2 separate regions of the Homo sapiens genome follow, and region 1 is linked to region 2. The links come from fine-mapping of genetic effects on gene expression. A gene starts in region 2. The other region holds a variant in brackets. All regions are shown on one strand. Distances are between the middles of the regions.

Region 1 (11,779 bases), 42 kb after region 2:
ACCCCGGATCCCTAACATCTGCCAGGTCCCACAGCCTACAGGAGACCATACAGCAGCCATCAGGGCCTCCTCCTGACCCGCCAATCCTGCACGCCAGGAACCCAGCCCTGCAACAGGCAGGCACCCGACAGATGCAGAGCTAGTAGGGAGGGGGAGCTTGCACCCATCACTCCCCTCTGAGGTTGAGACAATGGACCAGACCCCACCTGTGTCCTGTGAGGCAGGGCTGAGGGTAGACCTGCCGCTCTGCAGGGAACAACTGACTTCAGGGGCTGCTGCTGCGCCCCCCGCCCAGTGATGGGACAGGATGCTCAAAAGAGGCACTGAGCGAGTGACCAGTGACCCTGCCATGGTGGGACTCAGTGCCACCGCTGAGCTGGGACCCTTCAGAGTGAGGAGTGAGGGCTGGCAGGTGCAAGGCTGGGCCCCCTTCTCTGGTACCCACATCCCCAACCCCTGCTACTTTGCAGATGACAAGTTTTCCTGGCAGGGGGTGGGGACCAACTCCCCATCTCTCTCGGTCTCAGCCAAGGGGCTGTGGCTGTGCCCCTGATGGTGGGCCACGCATGGCCCCCAGCCCTGCCCACCCCGGCCTGTTCTGAGCAGCTCTGTCCTCTTTGCCCACAGGCTGCGCAGCCCCTGGGTGCCCTTGTGCCTCGGGCAGCCCCGAGTACTGCAGGGCCGGCTGGCCAGGTCCTCGCCCTCCATCTGGGACAGGTAACATACCTGTTGTCTCCCCCGGCTCCCTGGTGTCTCTGCGTCTGTCCCCAGACATCTGTCCCGTGTCTGTGTCCAACTCCCCGAGACAGATGCAGAGGCCCAGAAGGTGAAGGTGAAGGCGTGGGCCGGCGGCACAGCCTCACAGCCCTCAGCCCAGCATCCCAGCCAAGGGCTCCTTCCTTGGGCTTGGACCCCCTGCAAGTGGCCAGAAGGGGCTCTCGGTGGAAGGCAGAAGGGAGATCCCTCGAGGCCCCACCATGTGCCAGGGGAGCTGGGCACTCACCCCAGTCCAGGGAATTCCCACAGGCAAGGAGGGAGCCAAGAATCACGTGCGCACGCACACGCACACCACACACACGCACACGTGCACACACACTGCCGGTTAGCCCCAGATTCTGGTGTAACTCACCAGGCAGCAAGCCCAGCAGGGCCCCCCAGGCCCCCAGGCCTGGAAGGGTGGCCCCAGCCTGGAGGGCGTGGCCCTGGCGCTCGGAGCACCACAGCCCTCCCTGTATGTCTGCTAAGGAGCTGTTTCCAGACGCTGGGGACTCCCTGACCCATCTCGGCCCTTGCCAGGACACCTTTTCACCCAGGGCAGGGGACAGAGGCCTCTGAGCCACAGGCCTCCAGCAGTTTCCCCCAGATTCCCAGTGGCCTGGTGGCCCCACCCCACACAGTGCCACCTCTTGACATTGTCCACTGTGTGGAGGGTGCTACTATGTAGAATGTGGACCAGCAACAGCCCTGCCCCCGTGTCTGGGTGCACCATCCAGTTCTGCAGATGTGGAGACAGGCTGCCGTGGCAGGGCTCGGGTTATTGCCCGGTGTGGGGAACACTGGACAGGGAAGGAGGTACTACCCGGGTGACCGCAGACCCTAGGTACACAGCCTGGACTGGGCAGAGGGGACACGTTCAGAGGTGTGAGAAGCTGAACCCCCAGGACTTAGTGACAGGGCTGTGAGGGGTAAAGAGGGGTCACCATGCCCACCCCCCGGGTGGGGAACGTGGAGGGCAGTGAAGGTGTGGTGGATGTGGCTGCATTGGACGGGTTGGGTGTGGAGATGCCTGAGGGCCATAGGTGGGTGGCTGGACGTGGTGAGGGTATGGAGCCTGACAGACACCCCGCTGGAGTCAGATGGAAACCTGGGAGGGGTCCCTGTGCAGCTGGCTTGGAGGGGATTTGGTCTGAGCATGCAGGGCAGGGGTGCAGGTGCAAACCGGGGCCCCAGGGAACAGCCCGGGCGAGGTCGGGAGGGGCCTGTGGTGTGATCGCCGGACCAGCAGAGGTGGGGAAAGACGTGGCAGGAACCCTGGGGCGGCCAAGTGCGGGGCATCAGCTATGCCTGGGGACGGGGTGCGTGTCCATGGCCCGATGCCTGCAGCAAGCGGACACTGAGGCAGAGAGGGGTGTGAGAGTCAGGGGCTGGGGGCACTGCTAGCCCAAAGATTGGTTGGGTGTAGCAGGTGGTTGGGTGTGAAGGACTTGGGGAGGGGGAGCAGTATTTAAGGGCTGGTGGAACAGGGAGTTGACTGCTGTATCTGGAAGGCCATCCAAAGGCCAGGGGTAAACTGAGGCTCTGTGAAGCTGCCTGACTTGTGAGATGTCTGCCCCGAGCCCACCCCATAGCCCCTTCGTCCTCCCCTCCCACACCTGCCCCGTGGAGAATCCCTGCCTAGCTCATTGTCTGCCTCCCCTCTGGACCGCAGGCTCCCGGGGCAGGGGCAGGGTTTGTCTTACTCCTGGCTGTGAGGTCTCAGACAGGTTGCTTGCTCTGAGAGGTGAGGGTAGGGACCTCAGGGTGCCCAGAAGGGGCAGGGCTGGGTGAGGGGGCACAGTGAGCTAGGGGTGCAGGTCTCAGAATAGCAAGGACCTAAGGCTGCTCAGTGAGGCCTGGGGTGTGGCTGGAGAAGGGGTGAGGACTCGGGGCTGAGGTGGCCACGTGGGTGGATGGATGACGCCCTCACCTCTTCCCGAGGGCTGTGGGTACACCAGGAGCCCCTGCAGGGAACAGTCGACTTCAGGGGCTGCTGTGCAGCCCATTGTGCCTGCCCTAGGAGCCCAGGATGGCATAGGAGTCCCCAGGAAGTTCACCACCTCCCTGGGGAGGACAGGTCTGTGTGGGAAGCAGCCTGGGACCTGTAGCTATAGAGTGCTAGAAGTGGGGCAGCCACGGAAGGCTGCCTGGAGGAGGTGGAAGGAGGCCTGAGCACTGTCCCAGAGAGCGCTCCCGGAGGCAGACCCACGTGGGCAGCTGTGGCACTTTGCCTCAGGGCTTCCCTCTTTGCTTGTTACTCTACTTCCTCTTGTGGTGACTGACTCTTGGGAAGACCCGCCCTGCCCTTCTCTGAGGTTCTCAAAAACGTAAGCGACGCTTTATTTTTATTTGTTTTTAAAAATATAGCCCTGGGCAGGAATCCAAGAGTGCTTCCTGGAGGCTTGCTGGGTGTGTGCCCGCAGTGCCACATGCGGTTTACTCACGGGGCCCAGACAGAAGATGCCTCTGCTCGGGGCTGGGGGACAGTGGTGGCCCCAGGGGGACTGGGAGCCTCCTGCCTGCCCTCTACTCCCCTCGCTTGGGTTTGGGTCGGGAATATCACAAGAACGCGGGCTTTTGCCCAAGGTCCCACAGCACATCTGGGCAGAGTCAGGGTTCCAGGCCCTCTCCCACACCTCAAGTTTCCTTCATGACACCCGGGACTTCTGCCTGTCCCGTCCCCATCTCACAGCAACACAATCCAAAAGATGTTGGTCCCAGATAGCCCCTGGGCTGTGCACCCATTGCAAGGAAAGAACTGCTGGCTGCTGACCCCACTCTGACCCAGACAACCGGAAGTGCAGCCCCTGCCTTGGGGAGCTCCGAGCCATCCCTGTTGGAGGCCCCCACACTACCCTCCTGCCTTTGCACAGCTTTAGTTCAGGTGAATTGTTGGCAGGTGGCTCGGAAGAGTGGGTCATAGTGGGTCTCTGTTTCCTGAGCATGTGGGGCTCTGCATCCTGGGGTCCTACCCTCCAGGAGACCCCATTCTGGGGGAAGAAAATAGAGCCTCAAGAATTGTCTGGGTTTCTGGAAGGCTTCCTGGAGGAAGGGGAACTTGAGCAGGCCAGGACCTTGCCAGGTTTCCCGTGCTGCATGCAGCCTCATTGGCCATGGTGGCAGACACTGCCCGGGCATGGGACATTGCCACCAAACATCTCTCTGGCCCAGAGAAGTGACCCAGGGTCCCAGGGCCACACAGCCATTTTGGGGAAAGCAGGTCTGGTCTTGGGCATGGCACTGCTGACTCTGGGCCTCAGCCATCCCAACCTAGCACTGTGGAGGAGCAGGAGTGAGGGCCCCAGTCACCTGTGCCACCCAGGGCCAGCTCTGTGATAGCCTGGGTGCTGATGGGTGCTCTTTGTACCTGGGTCCTTTAAACCGCCCCCAACACACTGGCCAGGTTCTGGGGTCAAAGACTCCTCCAGCCACCACCTGGGATTTACCTGTGTGAGGGACACTGGTGGAGTCTGAGGAACCGCCCAGGCCAGACTGGCTCAGGGTCAGAGTCCCTGACTCTGGGGCGCCATGGTCTTCAGTGACGCCCGGGAGGCTGGGTGTGTGTGAGTGTGTGTGTGTGTGTGTGTGTGTGTGTGTGTGCGCGCGCGCGCGCGCGCCGGTACTCGCGTGTTAGTGCGGCACGCCCCGGCTGGCCTGCGGGCCTTAGTTTCCCCCGCTCAGCGCCGCGGCCCGGCCCGCCGCCGCCATGTCGTTGCAGCGCGCTGCAGGAGCAGAAGGGCGAGCTGCGCAAGCGGCTGTCCTACACCACACACAAGCTCGAGAAGCTCGAGACCGAGTTCGACTCCACGCGCCACTACCTGGAGATCGAGCTGCGGCGCGCGCAGGAGGAACTGGAGAAGGTCACGGAGAAGCTGCGCAGGTGAGGGGCGGGGCGAGGGCCGGGGCGGGGCGAGGGCCGGGGCGGGGCGAGGGCCGGGGCGGGGCGAGGGCCGGGGCGGGGCGAGGGCCGGGGCGGGGCGAGGGCCGGGGCGGGGCGAGGGCCGGGGCGGGGCGAGGGCCGGGGCGGGGCGAGGGCCGGGGTGGGGCAGGGCCCGAGGCCCGGAAAGCCGCACGCGGTGCTCCCCTCTCACCCTGGCTGTTGAC[T/C]CCACTCAGATGGGGAGTCCAGAGGTTCTGGTAGGGGAAGCTCTTCCTCCAAAGTCACACTATGGAGCAGCTGAGCCAGGATTTGAACCCAGCAGATCTCCAGACCCAGACTGGTCCACCCGGGGCCCAGCCATGGTTCCCTGGGTCCTGATGGGAAAAGCTGTGTCTAGCCCGGAGATGAACCAGTTTAGGGACCCTTCCCTTGAGCGCGTACGGGCTAATGAAGTGTCGATCCAGTTGTGCTGGACTCCCTCAAACACCAAACTTTTCTAAAAGCAGTTTTCTTGTGCACATTTAAAATGGATGTTTTTCTGAAATGTAATATGCACTTTCTCATCTTCTTAAACAGAAAATGCAAGAAGCATGCAACCTTTGCTGTTGGCTTGATTTGTTTTAGGTATTTGTAGAGAATCGGCTGGTGTTGCCCCTAGGGAGGACTTGCCATAGGGAGAGGGTTTGTCCCTCTCCGAACAGCCCCAGCTCCTGAGTGTTTTGAATGTCACCCTCCATTCATGTGGAAACCAAGCTTGGGCAGTGCAGTCAGACCTCAGTTAAAATCTGGGCCCTGCCAGTTACTGCTTTAAGTAATTAAAGTTTCACCTCAGTTTCCCTATTGGCAAGACAGGGGCCATAACACGACACATAGGTTGTCTGAGGCTGGACACCATCCCCAAGCCCCCTCCCACCAGCAATGGAATCTCCAAGCACCTGATTCCCACCTGACACTCAGCTCCACTCCTCCTACCCGGCAGAACCGAGTCTTGTTCACTGTGATGTCTCCAGCCTCACCCTGGGGCCCATCACATAGTTAGTGTTAAGTTTCTTCCCTGCTCATTTGCATTTGAACTGTCAACCCCATAACAGGTTTGTAAGAATTGTGGGTCAAATGTGAGTAAACTGGCTCCGCGTGTGGATGGGACAGAGTCTCTTGTGAATAACAAGCCTTCCCTTCCCATCTTCAGGGGGTCCCGGGGTGGAGGGGGAAATACAGTCCTGGGCCCTGGCCTAGGAAAGGCTTCTACAAAAGTTTGCTTTAATGGGATGTTCTCTGCTGTGTGCAGAGGGGCACACATTCCACCAGGGTGAAGCTGGTGGGGTGAGCTCAGGAGGTCCAAATTCAGCCCCACCCTGCTCAGCAGGCTGTGCGGCCATAAGGGTCGTGGGAGGGACAGGCCTTGCATGGCAGTGACCCCCTTGCCTCCTGCACCAGGATTCAGAGCAACTACATGGCACTGCAGAGGATCAACCAGGAGCTGGAGGACAAGCTGTACCGCATGGTGAGGCCGCCACGCAGCGCCCACTCCCCCACCCCACACCTCCTTCCCGGGGGGAGCCACCCAGCTGACACCCCTGGGCCACTCAGGAGCTGGGACACAGGTCTTGCTGGTCCCACCCCTTTCTCCATGGAACATGTGGAGCAGGGTGTGTGCTCTCAGGCTAAGGAAGTACTTGGGTCCAGGGCTGCCCTGTGCTGCCTGAGTGGCGGGTGCGAGCACTCCAGCCTGGGGGTGTGTAAGAGGGGCTGTGGACGGAGGACATACACTGGGAACGGGCCCCCCAGCTCAGCCTGCCAGTCCAAGGACCTGGGCCCAGGAGGATAGGGAGGCCCGAATTCAGGCCCTGGGTGAGCCAGAGGCAGGTTTGAGCCCCAGCTCCGCCTCTCATGGGGACCCCTCTGTGGGGACCCTCACACCACCTGCAGGTGACCTCAGTGGGGTCGCCATTTTCTCTGTGAACACACTGCTGGGACATGTCGAAGAGGGGCAGGGTGTGGGTTTCTGGTGCCACTCCCTCACTAGGATGAAGAGGTTTCCTTTCTTTCTACTTTGGTGACCAGCTCATTTTGGTTTTGAAAGCAACAACCTGCCCACCTTTGTGGTGCTATCAGAGACGGGGGGTGGCAGGCCTGGGGGCTGGGCCTGGCTCTGCCTGGGTGCCTGGACACCGGCCCTTTCCTGAGCCTCAGTTTCCCAATCTGTCCAGTGAGGTGGGCTGGGCTCTATGCCAGGCACAAGTCATCTGTCCTCCGTCCCCACTCCCAGCTCCTGAGGCAGGACGCTGTCACCTCTGTGTTGCACATGAGAAACTGAGGCTCAGAGGCAGTGACGTCCCCAAGGCTGTGTGGCTTGGCAGTGTTGGACCCAGGAATTGAACCAGGGTCTGTCTGTGCTCATAAACCCCACACCCTTGGCCCTCTAAGTGTCTTGTCACTCATGGCTACAAGGGACAAACCAGGGGGTGCAATCGAGCGACTGGGTTGGCTCACCAGGAGCCAACCACGGGCCTCCTCCTCCCACTGTCCCACCCCCAGGGCCAGCACTATGAGGAGGAGAAGCGTGCGCTGAGCCACGAGATTGTTGCCCTCAACAGCCATCTGCTAGAAGCCAAGGTGACCATCGACAAGCTGTCAGAGGACAACGTGAGTGCCGCACACACTTGGCCCATGGAAGACTGCCGGTGGGCCTAGGCGAGGGCTTCCCAGGATGCACTGGGAGTCACATTCTGACTCTGAAGGGTCCTGAGCTCAGCTGCTTTGGCCCCAGCCTCAAGGGGCTGGTGCAGGGTACAGGTGGATGGACAGGCTGGTCAGGGCTTTGAGAAGGACCTGCTGCAGTTGGGGAAAGATGGTGCTGTCTCATTGAGGACGCCAAGGGTGTCCTTAAACAGACCCTCTGCTGTAAGGACTTGAGCTAGGGGATGCGGGGCCATATTATCCCATTCAAGGCAAGGCTTCCTGATCCCAAGGTGGGGTCATGGCCACTCAGGACTCCTGCCCTTGGCCAGTCCCAGTGTTGCATCACAGCCGTGTGGCTGCCCATGGGGCCTAATTTCAGGGACCCTGTGAGATGGGCCCAGTTGCCCTCCACAGACCCTGGACAGCTGCCTCTGCATTCACGAATTAGCTTCTACCTTGCCAGACCCTACTAGGCTCCAAGATGATGGTGTGAACAACACAGGCAAAAAAAAAAACAAAAAAAAAAACACCTCTGGCCACGTGGAGTTCACATCTGAGTGGGGCAAACTCTGGGGTATGTTAGAAGTGTGAAATGCTATAGAGAAACAGAAAGCGAAGAACGGTACCAGGGAGTCGCCAGCTGCAGGGCCTGCAGATTTCAAGAGGGTGCTTCTGGAAGGGGCTGCTGTGCCAGGACCTGAGGGAGTGAAGGAGCCAGCCATGCAGACATCCGTGGGAGAAGCATTGCTTCCAGGCAGAAGCAACCGTGGTGTGCAGCTGTACCTGGTTAACTCGGAGGATCCCAAAGGGGCCAAGGAGCGCCCAGCGGGAGGGGGAGCCAGGGTCTGAGGTCAGAAAGACCATAGGAGGCAATGTTGTAGAGGCTCCTCCCAGAAACCTGGGCTTTATTCTGAGTGCAGTGGGGAGCCATGGAGGGTTCTGAAAACAGAGGAGCAACGTGATTGCACGTGCAGCTTCCCAGGGCTCACGTGGCTGCCATGCTGGAAACAGGCTGTAGGGACGAGGACAGGAGCAGGAAGATCAGGAGGAGGCCAGGACCATAGTCCAAAAGATGATGGTGGCTCAGATGACGGTGGAACTGGGCAGAGGGCTGGGATTCTGGTTGTGTTTTGAAAATAGAATCAACAGGACTAACCAAGATTTAGGATGTGGGTTGTTAGAAGAAGAGCTGAGTCCAACCCAGCTACAGGATTCAGAGCCCAAACAAAAGGAGTTGCCTGCCATTTCCTGGCTGGGGACAGCTGGGGAGGGACAGGAGCTGGGTGGGAGATGCACAGGACCCCTTGGAGCGGAGATGTCACCAGGGCAGCAGGAGGCCCGGGTCTGGAGTTGAGCGTGAAGGCCGGCATGCCGGCGGAGACTGCCCAGGCAGCATGCAGATGAGAAGCAGGGAGGCCCCAGGACGGAGTAGGGACCAGCAAGGATGCCTGGGAGGGAGTGGCCAGTAGGCTGGGGGACACCAGGCGAGTATGGTGGCCCAACAACCACTTGAGAAGGGGGCTGCAGTCAATGCCCTGGCCGGCTGGCTTGCCAGCTGCTGAGAGACCAGGTCAGAGGGCCAAGGAGAGGCATTGGGATTTGGGGAACTGGAGGTCGGTGGTGGAGTGGAGCGGTGGTTCCAGACACAGGCCACCCTTCTAAGGAGTGTGGCTCTAACAGGAGGACAGGAGGACATGGGCTCGGGACAGGAGGTGCTTCTTAACGTGACAAGGCCAGGCCCCTTACCTAAGTGGACACTAGTCCTGGGGCCCTCTCTGCAGGGTTGGTGCACATGAGGAAACTAAGGCATGGCCAGCTTGAGTGGTTTCCCAGGTGACCCAGGTGGTGTCTCGCAGACGGAGCCAGAACTCAACCTCGGGACTCCGACTCCAGCAGCCCCGGGCCCTGGGTGGCCAGAGTGCTTGCCTCCACCTGTTCGCTCTGCCAGAGTGTCCCGTGAGCATTTCCTCCCCGAGCCAGCAGCTGCGGCTGCTCAGGAAAGGCTCCCAGCTGTCCCAGAGCTGGCCACCTCAGACATGGACAGCCCAGGGGCTTGGGTACTCAGCCAGGTGCCCCAGGGGCTATGGGCATGGCACCGGCTTCCCAGTGGCAGCCACTCCTGGCTGTGGCTGGTGGGGCTCAGTGGCAGACCTGGGCTGGCTGGGCAGTGCCTGCAGCCCTCTGGTGCCAGGGGCAGCCGGTCGACTGGGGTCATACAAGGGGTCAGTTCTCAGCTCTCAGGCAGCCGTGCTGTTCTGTTCCTAGGAGGCCCAGGGAGGCACTGAGAGGGGTTTGGCGACTCCGACGCCCTCCACCGTGTAGGCCAAGTTGGGGGCACCAGCCTTCAGTGAGGGAGGCTCCAGGGCCGTGGTGGGGGGACAGAAAGGTGCCTGTGTCAGAGACAGCCTTGCCTGGACAGCAGGATGCCTGGTGCTGGCTGGGTTGGGACTGTGGCCAGCCCTTGCCAGGAGCAGCCATGGGGCAGCTCAGGTGGGTCACTGGGCCTCCGGGCCACCCCAGGGCTAGCTGTCAGAGCCCTCGCAGTGGGGACCCCGGAGGGGCGGGAATGCAAGCCCCAAACACAGGCACATGCAACAGAGATTTTCAGTGGCGAAGCCACACCCCTTGAGTCCTACTGTTTGCATCTGTTTTCAGCTCAGGAGGCTGAGCCAGCGCCCGCCTGGGCCTGAGGTCACACACCTGCCCAGTCCCTGCCCAGCCCTGCAGCCACACTGTTTCCAAACCACACTCTGGGAAGAGGGTTGTGAGCAGCAAGTCTGAAGTGCGGGGTGGAAGGTGCTGGGGGTTCATCCTGCCTCCCATTCCTGCCTGGCACTCCCACCCCGTCATCTTTGGAAGGACGCCGAGAGCCTGAGGGACAGGGACAGGGAGACCAGGCCTGCTCTACGAGCCTGGGGGAGCTCAGGGCCATTGGGGCTCCTTCTTCTACCACTGCCCCCCACCTTGTGGGAGGTTCCCATCTTGGCAGTGCTCAAGGGCACCAGCTAGGGCAGCGGCAGGGCCCTCCATGCTCCGGCAGCCCCAGGTCAGAAAGAGGCTCTCATTTTGCAGGCAAGAGTGTGGAGGCCAGAGAGGGCCGGAGCCAGCAGTGGGTCCTTGTCCTGCTGAGCGCACAGCAGGCCCTGTGCACACCACTGCCCCCGCTGGCCACTTGGCGCTGGTCAGGGCGGCGGGGCCTTGGCTGGGGTGAATGGCGCCAAACGCCTTCTCTTGTCTTTTAGGAGCTCTATAGGAAGGACTGCAATCTAGCGGCCCAGCTGCTGCAGTGCAGCCAGACCTACGGCAGGGTCCACAAGGTGTCTGAGGTAACGTGGCCCCGCAGCCAGGCCCACCCCGCCCCGGGACCACCGGGCTCCTTTTGTGCCAGTGCTACCCCAAAGCCATTTCCCATCTTTGAGGAGGAAGATGCCAGCTGAGCCTGAGCCTCCTCTGTCCCCCTCGCTCCTGTGGGGTCATGACATTGGAGGGGCCGCCAAAGGCACCCCACCTCACGCAGCCGGGCAGCCCCTGGCCCTCACCAGAGTCCCTTTGGCCCACCCCGGCTGCTGGTTGCCCTCGGTTTCCTTTGGGGGGCTGCTCCAGGTCCTTGCTTCCACTGAGCGCTGACACGGCAGAGTGACCTTTGTGGAGCTTCGCAGGAGCCTGTGGCTGGGCACGATGACCGGCAGTGCCTATTTCAGAAAGAAAACATTCAGGAAAGAGGGCGTGGCTGAGGCCACGTGGCAGGCAGGTAGCAGAGCCAGGACCCAGAACCAGGCCTGTCTGATGCCAAGGGCAGATGGGCCAGAGGCCCACCCCTGCCCGCCTATGGTCGCCGCACCCTGCGCACCCCGTCCCCCGACCCTCCCCTCACATGCAATCTCCCAGCCAGGCCTGTGCGTTCCTTTCCCCTGGTCCTGGGCCATGCCTGAGACACTCACAAAATAGATCAAACAGTAGCGGGACACCCCCACATGGCACCAGGCGCTCTCAGCCCTGGCCCTCAATCTTTGTTGCATCTGAGTCTGTCTTCTTCAGGAGCGCTCCAGCAGCATGACTGGGGGGCTGGGGAGTGGGTCATGCCCCCAGTAGAACCCACAGAACCCACGGGCCTGGGAGAGCAAGTCAACCCCTCGCTGGGCACAAAATGGGTGGGGTGGGGGTGGCGGGGGGTGGAGCCTTGAGTGGGGCCTGAATCAGACCTGGGTTCCGGCTTCTCCAGGCGACTGCAGCTTCTGGGCTCTCCTGGGCCCAATCAGAGTGGGGTGGGGAGAGGTGACCCAGGATCCCCAGGCAGTCACAGCACCCACACCCCTGGGAGCTTGTTCAGTACAGCGTCCTGGATCCAGGCTCCCCCTGGTGTGATTTGAGAAGCCGGGAGGCCCCCGTTCGTCTGTCTGCCTGTCGGTCATGGCTAACATCAGTCCTCAGCTTCAGGGCCAGGGCTGGGCTGCCATGCTAACA
Region 2 (11,779 bases):
AGGCGTGAGGCACCAGACCCGATGGAGCCTCTTTTTTTATGGGAATGTTGCCTCCTGTTTTGAGCAGGGACAAGGGGAAAGGAGGCTGAGTGTGTGTGCCTGTGGGTGGTCGGGGTGGAGGGCAGCCTGCAAGGGGAGTGAGGGAGCAGGAGAGCCTCAGCATCTGCCAAGAGGATGAGTCACATCAGAGACACCAGTGAGCCCATGGAAGGCCTTGAGTGCCTGGATGGGATGCGGCAGGCAGGCAGGTGAGAATCATGGCAGGTTCTTGAGCAGAGGAGGGGCAGGGTGAGAGGATACTGGAACAGACACAAGGCAGGTTTCAGAGACAGGGCCAGGCAGGAGACTACAGGGACTCCCCAGAAGGAGGAGGGAGTTTCTTGGCTGGGAACGGGGGATGTGGGGGCCTGCCGGGCTCTGGGCACCCTCGGCTTCCATCTTTCAGGCCAGCATCCCAACTCCACATTGCCTTGGTCTCCACCTCCAATCCATACCACTCAGGGCAGTGTCAGGCGAGCACAGCAGGAGTTGGTGCCCAGCCTCCAGGCAGCCTGGCTTGTGGCCATCCCTGACCTCAGGCACTGCTTCTTGCCGTGTTCCTGCCACCTAAGGCTCTCAGAGGTCTGGGCTCCGTCTCGCTGCCCTGGAGTCCAGGCCCCTGCAGGACACTCCTCCTTCCACCAGCTTGGCAAGGCTCCCCCAGGCCCGGAGTCCTGCCCAGGGGCACTGGCCACACTGCCGCTGTCCGGATGCCACATACACCTGTGGGGCAGAGTGCAGAGGCAGGTGTGTTCTCCTTGCAGTCCTACTGCATTAACCACAGAGGAGCTGATCGGTGCCAGCCTCCGGCTCCACGCTCTGGTATGGCCAGCCCATGTGCCAAGGCTCTTGGGGAACCTTCTTCAGCCCTGCCTGCTGACTCCCCCTCACATTGGGGTTCAGCCCTCTGGTGTTCCCACGATCACTTCATCCCTCGCTCATTCATTCATTCATTCAGCTCATCTCTGCCTGCACCTTCAGTGGTCTTAGCTTTGGGCGACAAGCCTCTGCAGGTTTGGGGAGGCACCGGGAACGAGGGCCAGTCCCGCCTGGAGGGCCCATGGTGGGGCAGAGAAGGACATCCCTGGGCAGGGACAGTCACTGAGGTCAGAACCAAGCTCAAGGGCACACAGAGAAACACACCAACTAGGGATCGGGGAGGGCTTCCTGGAGGAGAGGTTGCCTGAATGGAGACCAGAAAGCCTAGCTGCAATGCAGGAGATGAAAGGGCAAGGCAGGCTGCTCCATGCTGAGGAACATTGTGTGCCAATGTCCCCTGGGGGTCCTTTGCTGTAGCTGTCGCTTGCAAGCTTGGCGAAGATCCTGCCGAGGAAGGGGTCCATGTTCTGCCTCCCGGCCAGGGCTGTTGGGATTGAACAGTACCTGGGTTGGGGCCCCAGTCTGGGCCTCTGGAGGAGCTGATGCGTGTCCTGGAGAAGGGACTAGGAGAAATGGCTGGGAGAAGACGGGAGGGCGCTGGTGGTTTCCAACCCCCTGAAACACTGTCCTGCCTCGGCAGAGGGGGTTAGCCCTGCCCCTGTGGGGCCACAGTTGTAGCTCAGAACTTTCTGGGCCATTGTTAAACGGTAGAGACTTCTTGGGGGGAATTTCTCATCACCTGAGGTGTGCAAGGAGGGGCTAGATGCCTCTTTTAGCCTGATGTATGGTTTTGACTATGAGCCTTGCCGGGCATCAGCAGTGGGATAGGTGGGAGGGGCCTAGCTGGGAGCAATCTGGGAAAGCTTGCAAGAAGAAGCAACTTTGGGAGCTGAGATGAGGAGGTTTCCACATGGACACTCCACAGAAGGGCATCTCAGGATGAGGGAACTCCCTGTGCAAGGACCCGGAAACAGAAGGTATGGACAGGGATGATGTAGCCGGAGCTCAGCCTGGCTGGGGAGGGCACCACAGCAGCAGCAGGGCCGAGCCTGGCCCAGGACCTAGCAGGTGGGCCCCTGAAGGAGCCCAGACCCCCAGGTGGCCTTGGTGAACCCCTGCTGACTGTTCGCAGCAGCACGCACACCCAGTGGCAGTTTCTGTCTTAGTGAGGCCACCTCGGTGCCATCCCCTGCTCTGTGTCCGCTCCCCTTGCCCAGGCTCAAGCATGGGAGGCCCAGGATGGTGCCCTCCGTACCCAGGCCCAGGGCATAAAGAGATAAGCCCAGTCACACTGAGATGAGATGGGATTTTGCTTGACAAATATTTGTTTGAAAATGGTTTCCCCTATTTACAGTTTTGAAGCCCAAGCCACAGCATCCAAACCACCTCCACCTGCTGGAAAGGCCTGACAGGGGCAGAGGCCCAGGGAGGAGGCCACTGCTGCTTCCCATGGAGACAGAGCAGGGCAGGCAGTGGGGTGGAGGCCAAGGGGCTCACAGCACCACCCCAGGAGGAGCAGTGGGCCAGACCCCTGGGCCTGGGACCTGCCTCGGACAGAGCACCTACGAGGCTCCCAGCTGCCTGTGCCCGCTTCCTACGGTCCCAGGCCCCCCTCATCGTTGCTCCCAGGACAAGCAGGTGAAGGAACAGGGCAGCGGGGTACGGTTAGGGTTAGGGCTGGGGTTAGGATTAGGGTTAGGATTTGGTTTGGGATTAGGGTTAGGGTCAGGTTGGGATTAGGCTTAGGTTTGGGGTTGGGATTATGGTTAGGATTTGGGCTAGTGCTTGGGGTGTTTTTGGCAGTGTTTAGTGTTAGGGTTAGGGCTGGGTTGGGGTTTGGTTTAATGTTCCTTTTGGGATTTGGTTTTGGGTTGGCGTCTGGGTTAACTTTAGCGTGTGGTGTGGGTTGAGGTTATTGCTTTCTGGCAGGACAGTGTTGGGGTTAGAGTCGGGTTTAGGGTTCATGTTACTGTTCAGGCTAGCATTGGGGTAGGGTTAAAGTTTGCTTTGGTTTTGGGTCCCATTAGAGTTAGGTTTAGCATTTGATATAGGTTGGAATTTGGGTTAATATTGCAGTTGGGGTCATTGTTAGATACACACTTGGGCCAATTCAGGGCCTTCTCACCACCTGTGGAGGGCAGCTGTAGCCCGATTCTGCAGGGGACTCCAGAGTTTCAGTTGGAGCACCTGTTGTTTGTGGGAGAGTGGGAAGATACCTCTCACCTTCCCATTCTCTAGGGCTCATAGTCAGAACCCTTGCTCAATCTGTTCTTGTGGGTGGGGATTGGAAGATGAGGCAGGGAACTGGTCAGCATGGCTAGCTGATGCTGGAGCCCCTGTATGTGGCTGTCTGCGGGTGCCTCACTGTCAATGACTTCCCTGACGTGCTGTCCTTTCTTTTATACTCAGCCACCAGGGCCAGAAGCCTGGCATCACACCAGGCTATTCCTATCTCCCCCACCTCCATCCATCCATGCATTCTTTGGCACATTTAACCATGAGCCCCAGTGTGGTGCCACTTCCTGCCCTGCTCCCTGACCACAGTAGAGGACCACGCATCCCAGCGGGGAGATTGATGTCCACATCAACAGACAGATCAGATAGCTCTGGAACGCAGTAAGAGACACGCAAAAAACAAAATAGGGCAACGAGATTGAGCCATGGGGATGGTGATGTCAAACAGAGTGGTCCGTAGAGGTCTGAATGAGGGCAGGGGCCTGAGGAGAGGGTCCTCCATGGCCCCAGGGCATCACCTCGAAGTCCTGCCACTTTCATCCCTTCTTCCCAACCCGGCTGAAACCTTGCCTCCTCCAGGAAGCCTGCCTGATGCCCCAGGCTCTGCTGCACTGACTGTAGTTTCCCCATCTGCAAAAAGGGGCTAGTACCACTTCCCCTACAGGGGCATTGCAGGGATGCTCCCAGACCCACAACCAATGCCTGCTTTCTCTCCGCCTTCCTAGCTTAAGGGGGCTGGAGTGGGAAGGATAGAAGAGAGGGCAGGGAGGGTGGGGACGGGAGGTGCGTGCAGCATGGGGGAGGGGCTCTCCTGGGGCCTTCCCAGGCAGGCCTGAGCTGAAGCCTGCAAGCTGCTGGAGCTGAAGCAGGAGCCGCCCCCACCCCACCCGCCCCTCCCCCGCCTCCCCAGCCATCTGTGGCGTTGGCAGCAGCAGTGCCAGGGCGGGCGGTGAACATTCTGGCACCATCTGAGCAGGACCAGCCTCTGGGGAAGGGCCGCAGCCCAGGAGGAGGCAATGTGGGCAGAGCCCTGCCTGTACCCCAGGTTCCACATCCCCCATTGGTGTTTGTCCCCTTAGGGACTGGGGAGGGAAGGGACACTGGAGCTGGCAGGCTGGGCCTCACTACCTCTCACAGGATGCCTCCACTGCTGTGTGCTGCCTGAATGGTGTCTGAACCTGAGAGGCCAGAGTGGAGGTCAGGGAGCCTGTCCCTACTCCTGCTGGGGAGACTAAGGCCCCCTTGAGCAAAGAGGCTGGTCCCGTGGTGCACACCAGCGACGGTTTGGGCGAAGTCTGTCCACGCTTCGCCCAAACTGGGAGAGCCCCGCCCTGAGCTGCCGCCTCTCATTTTGTCTTGACTGTGGTGGGGTGCACTTGGAGGCGCCTCCCTCTGTCCATTGGTTACCCAATCATGTCCCTGGGACCTGAGAGGGAGCAGAGACAGGACTTTGCTTGACACGAAGTGGCTCCAGTCAGCTGCTGGTTCTTTTGCTTGTCTCCTTTTTTTCTGGGTTTCCCCTCTTGCCTTGCTATCAGTGCCTTTTCTCAGCACTGACACTGCCTGAATGTAGCAACCTACTCCCCAGATTAAATGAGAGAGCGTAGAAACTGCAAAGCATACAACATACAGCATATAAGGATGGTGGTGATGGCAGCTCAACAGTGGGAACTCAGTGTCCCCAAACTGTACACTTTAAAAGTGGTTAAAATGGTAAATTTTATGTTTTCCATGTTTTCCACAATTAAAAAACAAAAATATACAAGGTACTCATTCGCAGCATCTTCTAATCTGCCATGTACTTGGAAATGATATAAGCATGTGTGAACCATGAGCCCATAGGTCCCGAGGGAGGATATGAGCGAAGCACACGGGCTTTGCCAGCTCTGTTTCCACCACGCAGGACCCTCCCTGGCTGCCAGTGCTCCTCCCCGGGTTCCCACGCTGGCTGCTGCTGGGCTGGCTGGGATGGAAGACCCTCATGTAGCTGGCACCCTCAGGGCTGCCCCTTGCCCGCTCTGGGAGGAGAGAGGAGGGTTCACGCTGCACCTTTACCAGGGTAGGACTGGCCAGCCTGGGCTCTACCGGGCAGGTCGGTGGGATGCTTCAGACTGGAGGGATAGGCAGGGGGCAACACTGGTCCTCCTGAAGCCACCTTCCCTTCCTGAGAGCTCCTTGGGGAGAAGGCAAGCCCTGGAAGCCACCGACTGGGGGCTCGGGCAGAGCAAGGGCAGGGTAAGGGGCAGCTTGGCCAGGAGGCACCCTTGGGAGCCAGGGTTTCCTCATCTGTAAAATGTGACTCTGCGAGGGCAGGAGCTTGGTTTCACTCGCTACTGTACCCCCTGGGGCCTACAGCAGGGCTGGTTGGTACACACTAGGTGTCTAATAAATGTTGAGGGATTGAATGGATGGACCGATGAAAAGGTTGGGCAGGTCATTACTGACAGCCTCTGGGTTTCAAGGGCCCATTCACTCTGTCACTCACCTTCGCGCCCGTGCATTAGTTCTCTCATTTATTCATTCCCCCCGCCCCCCCAGCCCCGCATGCTCTACCGCACTCATTCATTCACGCGCTCAGCCATTCAAGCTGGCGCGGGTTCATTCATTCCCTGCCCCTCTGCCATTCCTCGCCTGGCCCCCGCGCACGCCGCACCCCCGCGCCCCTGCCCGGCCCTGCGCCCACCACTTGCGCCCCGGCCGGGCGCTGCCGGGAGGACGCGCGGGCTCAGCCGCGGCTGCGCGGGGCCGGGGCTGGCGGGGAGCCGGGCTGGGGGCGGGGGGCGGGCGCTCCCTGCGGGAAGCCGGGCGGGGTGGGGGAGCCCCGGCCGCGCCGGCTCCCGGCGCGCTCGGCCTCGGAGGGGAGGGGGCGGCGGTAGCGGCGGCGGCGGTGAGCGGCGCGGCTGCCCTGGGGCCATGTGGACTGGCGGTCGCCGGCCGGGCCGGCTGCGCCGGGCGGTGAGTACCTGCGAGCCGGGAGGGCAGGGCGCGGGCGCGGGCGCGGAGGCGGGGCGGGCGCCACCCACGCCTGGGGCGGTCCCTGCTCAGCGCGGGAGGTGGCCGGCCCCCCGCCCCGCTCCCCTCCGCGCTGCGCCCCCGCCGTGGAGGCTTCACTGGCCCGGGAGGAGCCGGGCCGGGTCTCCTGGGAACTGGGCACTCTCGGGTGGGGCGGGGATGCCCAGCCTCCGCGCGCCGCCGGGAGCGCCCGGGTCCTATCGCGGGGTCCTTGCGCCCTGACACGCGCGCCCCTGCGGCGGAAGGAAAGGAGGGACGGGTGACCAAGGGCGCGGCCGGAGGACTGGGGACCCGCCGCTGTCCCGGGCGGGTGGCGAGGGTGCGGGCAGGCCTGGACCCGCCTGCGTCTGGGGGCAGGGCCAGCCCCTGCTTGGGAGGCCGGAGAAAGGCCCGGGAGCCGGAAGGAGGCTGGACCCGGGGCCGCCTCATTGAGCGTTTGCAGCGCGTGGGCGCGCACGAACCTCGGACACCACCATCCCATTCAGTACCTCGCGGCAGGTACTATCCTCCTGCCCCTTTACAGGCGAGGAAACTGAGGCTCAGGGAGGCCAGGGCCTCGCCCAGAGCGGCTCAGCCGGCGCGCTCACCCTCCCTGAGCCCCAGCACGTTGGATGGGAATTTCTGCCCCAGCGTTTCCGCTTCCTGCTTGGTTTAGAGGTGTTTCCTTCCTCGTCTGTGCCCCACCCCATCCCCAATGTGGTTTCCTCAGGGCAGGAACAGCGTGGGCGACGCGCTGGAGTCTCCTGAGCCGGCAGAATGGGAGCAGAGTGGGCACCCGGGAGCGGGGCCGGATGGATAGGGAGCACTGCACGTGCAAAGTCCGCATGGCCAAGGTCGGCCGCCAGTGCAGACTGGGGGTCCAGGCCCTGGGGGTATGGGTGGGGCGGGGTCTCCACAGCCAGGCTCCGTCGGAGGCCCCAGTGCTCTGGCTCTCTGGAGGCCATGGACAGGTTCTTTTCCTTCTCTGGACCCTAGTTCCTCTGCCTGCCAAGAGCAGCAGAGACCCCCACTACTCCCAGGGCCAGGCTCCCACGAGGACTGTGGGCAGAAGCCCCTAACAAACTGCGGTGTGCAGCCCTGCCAGGCTGGCCTTGGTCTTGCCAGCAGGGGCAACTGGCCGTTGGGGGTGGCTCTGCCTGGCATCTGTGACACGCAGGGCGGGGAGACGGCAGAGAGGGCCCCAGCAGCATCCTGCAAACCCTTAATTTTCCCGACTCTCACTATAATCAGGGCAGCTTGGAAAAGCAAGCACTGTGGCAGATGCGGCTCTGCCCGGGCTCAGCACACGGGCTCTGGGCGATGGGCGGCTGCGCTGCCGCCAAGGGCCCTCCCCAGCTTTTGTCTCATATTTATAGATTCCAAGGCTCCGCGTTCCGTTTGTCGTCAAAACCTGGAGCTGTTCGCACCTGGGAGCTGAGTGGGGAGGGGAGGGCTGCCTAGAACCTCAGCCTGGAGGATGAGTTTTCCATGCGCTGGGGTGGAGTAGGGGGACACCTGTCAGAGCCCAGGCCTGGAGAGAGGAAATGAGCCCTAAGCAATCTGGAAGATCTTCCATCCACTCTCCCAAGACTTGGGCGCAGGGTCTGGCCCACATAGCTGCCATTTATGGAACGCCTGCTATGTACTGGGCCCTGGATCAGCATTTCCACGCATCATCTCCACGGCAACACTTTGAAGGAGCTTCCCTACTCCTGCAGGCACTCCTGATGCTGAAGAGTGGATGGATGGATGAATGGATGGATGGATGGATGGATGGATGGATGGATGGATGGATGGGAGGGAGGGAGGGATGGATGGGAGGGATGGATGGATGGGAGGGAGGGAGGGAGGGATGGATGGATGGGAGGGAGGGAGGGAGGGATGGATGGGAGGGAGGGAAGGAGGGATGGATGGGAGGGATGGGAGGGATGGATGGATGGGATGGATGGATGGATGGATGGGAGGGAGGGAGGGAGGGAGGGATGGATGGATGGATGGATGGATGGATGGATGGATGGGAGGGATTGACTGAAGCCCATGAGTCCATGGCTATTGGACACAGTCCACAAATCATTACCCAGGGTCCCAGGAGGTGGGGTCCAAGGGCTGAGTAGTTGCTGAACAGATGAAGGGGTCAAGGTGTGTTACAGGAGCCTGGCCCAAGGCCTGAAGGTGATGGGGAGAGTGTAGAGTGTTCAAGTCTCAAGACTTAGAGAGGCTGTGTCCTGCTGGAGTGTGGAAGCCATGGCGGTGGGGAGGTGTGGCTCCTCCCCCTAAGGGAGGTAAGGATCCCTGGGACAGATGGGTGGGTGACCCTAGGACTCGCCGTGTTGGTCTAGAATCACCCCGCATGGTTCTCTTCTGACTCCCCTTCCTGCCGCAGAGCTGGTCGCTAGCCTTAGTGGAGAGGCCTGGACGGAGGTCTGCAGCCCTGGGTTCTGGTTCCTCCTCTGCCGCTGACTCACTGTCTCCTCTCTAGGGCTCCGTATCAGAAGCTTAACACCCATTACAGTCAGGGGAGTGACTTCTGTGGCCTGAGAGCAGGCATCAGATTGTAGCCTGTGGTGGGAGAAGCTGGCCAGAGGTGTCTCTATTGCTTTAATCATTATAGGAATGAATGAATGAATGAATGATGAATGACTAAGTGTGTGAATTCTACACTCACCTAACATGCTGTACCTAAGCACCCACTCTGCACTGCTCATTGGGGTCACTTAGGTGAGTCTGACACAGACCTTGCCCTCCACGAGTCCACAGTTTGCTGGGAGACATGGACCTTGGCCAGTACGGCAGGAGTCAGGAGCTGCTGGGGCTCTTCTCTCCCCTCTAGCCAGGAAGGGAACTCAAAAGTGGCCCTTGCCTCAGCAGGCCTTGAGTCTGGAGGACAGTACAGCAGCCTCTGTGGTCTGCCTGGGGTGGGGATCAGCCAGGGCCCAGCTCTGAGCCAAGCAGGGGAATTGCAGTCATTGGTTCAATCAGCAAGCCCTGAGCCCAAGTCAGGGATGGAGATGGGTCAGGCCTGGGCTTTGCCTGGGGAAGCCAGACATGGAAGCCTGGTCATCCCACAGTGGGTGCATGCTGGGATTAAGAGGTGCATGAGGTGGAGAAGCAACGCAGGCATGCTGAAGGGGATGCATGGGTGGATGATACTGTATGGAAGGGAAGCACTAGCAGGATAGAGCAGCGGATGGATGGGTAGAAACCTAGAGGGATAGGCTGGGCGCAGCGGCTCACGCCTGTAATCCCAGCACTTTGGGAGGCCAAGGTGAGTGGACCACCTGAGGTCAGGAGTTCAAGACCAGCCTGACCAATATGGTGAAACCCCGTCTCTATAAAAATACAAAAAAAATTAGGTGGGTGTGGTGGTGTGCACCTGTAGTTCCAGCCATTTGGGAGGCTGAGACAGGAGAATTGCTTGAACCCAGGAGGCAGAGGTGAGGTTGCAGTGAGCCGAGATCGTGCCACTACACTCCAGCCCCTGGGCAACAGAGTGAGACTCCATCAAAAAAAAAAAAAAAAAGGAAGAAAAACGAAAGAGAGAGAGAGAAAGAAAGAAAAAAAGAAAAGAAAGAAAGAAAGAGAGAAAGAGGGATAGATGGACGGGAGGAGAGGTTGATGGATGTAAGTAGCAAGATAGGGATGGGTGGGTGGACAGATGGAAAAGTTGATATGGATACAGGACTGGATTGATAGAACAAAATATCAATGGATGATACATGGGTGGAGGGAGGGAGACTTCTGATACACAAGGCAAGATTGGTAGATGAATGGATGGAAGGATCTTTGGATGGATGGATGAAGGAATGGATACATAAATGGATACAGGTAGTGCCTGGATGTTGGGATGGGTGGATGAATACTTGAATACATGTCCATGAATGATGGACAGAGGAATGAATGGACACTGGAAGAGTGAGTGCATGGATAGGTGATGAGTGTATATTGACGGATGTGTGGATAGAGGCCTGAGAAGGCAGCTCAGTGCACAAATGGATACAAAGCAATGGATGCATGGATACGAGACACAAGTAACAGAGGAATGGACAGACATGGAGGGATGGGCAGGCGGACAGATGGAGACGGGAGTGAGAGGACCAGTGAACAGATGAGTGCCCATCAGCGGGTGAGGGACACAGAGACAGAAGGATGTGTTGGTGCGTGGATGGCACCTGTAAATGGGTGAGCGGTCACAGGGGTGGATGGTGAAGGACGGTTGGTTGAATGGGTGAAGCTTCAGGTCACTCATGCCTTGATTTCCCAGATGCCAGTGTTTTGCTCACAGACCCCCATGTCCCTCTGCTTCAGAGACATATACTACGCAGGCGCAGGGTCAGGAGGGGGCTGATCAGACAGGGAGACTTAACCCCACCTTGACTTTGGTGGGAGAAAAGCCAACCCAAACTAACAGCTATTTGGCCTTTCCAGGCCCGCTTTGCCCTGGAAGACCCACTCAGGAAATAAGGAAGAAGCAGTGAGACCTCTTCGAAAGGTCAGCGGCCAGCCGGGGTTCCTACAGGGGCGTCCTTGCCCAGGGATCTCCCTGGAAGACCTGGACAGCTGTGTACATGTCCTATCTGAGGAAGAGAACTGGGGCACCTGTGTTGGGTGCTGGGGACTGGGAGACATCAAGACCATGGCTGCCCTTGGAGATTCTGAGGCCAGCGTGGAAAATCCAGGGACAGCGGGGCAGGTGATTAGGAGCACAAGTGTGCGGATTCCCAGAGCCTCAGTGTCCTCAACTGCAAAAGGGGAATAATAATAGACACTTCTGACTGGGCGCGGTGGCTCACGCCTGTAATCCCAGCACTTTGGGAGGCCGAGGTGGGCCGATCACGAGGTCAGGAGATCAAGACCATCCCGGCCAACATGGAGAAACCCCATCTCTACTAAAAATACAAAAATTAGCTGGGCATGGTGGTGCGTGCCTGTAATCCCAGCTACTTGGGAGGCTGAGGCAGGAGAATCGCTTAAACCGGGGAGTCAGAGGTTGCAGTGAGCCGAGATCGCGCCACTGCACTCTAGCCTGGCAGCAGAGCGAGACCTGTCTCAAAAACAAAAGAGAAAAAAGAAAGAAAGGAAAAAAAATAAACTTCTGTGCTGGGACGAGGGGAAGGTTGGTGAAGGTGACCACACCTCTGCTGGCCTATGCTGCGGCCCCTGGCGCATGCCCGCACCATGGGGGTTTACCCGAGACCCCTCAGAGCCCAGTTTCCTCCTCCGTGAAGCGGGGTAGCTGCTCCTAGCTTTCAGGCCTGCTGTAAGAATGAAGCGAGGTGACGTTTGGCACTGTCAGCAGAAGCCCGGCATGCCTGCCCACTCGGCAGGGTCCTCCCAACATCCTGTGGCCTGGTCTTCCTGCTCCAATCCCAGCAGACAGTGGGCAGCCTCATGCCCCTTCTGTCCGAGCTGGCAGGGGCCAGCTTTCCAACCACAGGGGCAGTGTGTGCCAGGCAGCAGGAGAGGGGCTTGGGCATCTGGAGAGGAAACGGGTGTGAGTGCCTGACCTTTGGGGTTCTGTCCTGGGCCTGACATGCCCAAGCCATGTGACCTCCGACGGGTCACTGCACCTTTCTGAGACCCTGCTTCTTTTAGCAGAAAATAGAGCCTTTGGCTGTCCTGATGCACAGAGGCGGGT

Which allele goes with the higher level. Alleles are on the strand shown, and positions count from the first base shown. SD is a standard deviation of normalised expression in the study named.
With allele C in place of T in region 1, the expression in transverse colon of the gene that starts at base 5,940 in region 2 is lower (moderate effect, 0.58 SD a copy in GTEx).

Evidence for each region. PIP is the estimated chance that this variant, and not a neighbour inherited with it, causes the effect.
Region 1: its variant is fine-mapped to the expression of BEGAIN in transverse colon (GTEx, PIP 0.98). The same link has a PIP of 0.9 or more in aorta and unexposed skin.

The regions. Positions count from the first base shown.
Region 1 is chr14:100,539,358-100,551,136 of GRCh38, reverse strand. It overlaps BEGAIN (brain enriched guanylate kinase associated), which reads left to right. Exons shown (of 7, transcript NM_001385089.1): 3 at 4,475-4,636; 4 at 6,071-6,137; 5 at 7,172-7,279; 6 at 10,558-10,641. LOC124903382 (a long non-coding RNA gene) reads right to left here. Exons shown (of 2, transcript XR_007064334.1): 2 at 8,194-11,007. Among named protein-coding and RNA genes, the nearest start is that of BEGAIN, 42 kb to the left of the region's middle. RefSeq lists an enhancer at 4,079-4,208. The variant T/C (reference allele first, on the strand shown) is at 4,861.
Region 2 is chr14:100,581,578-100,593,356 of GRCh38, reverse strand. BEGAIN (brain enriched guanylate kinase associated) reads left to right here and starts at 5,940. Exons shown (of 7, transcript NM_001385089.1): 1 at 5,940-6,108. The coding sequence starts at 6,067.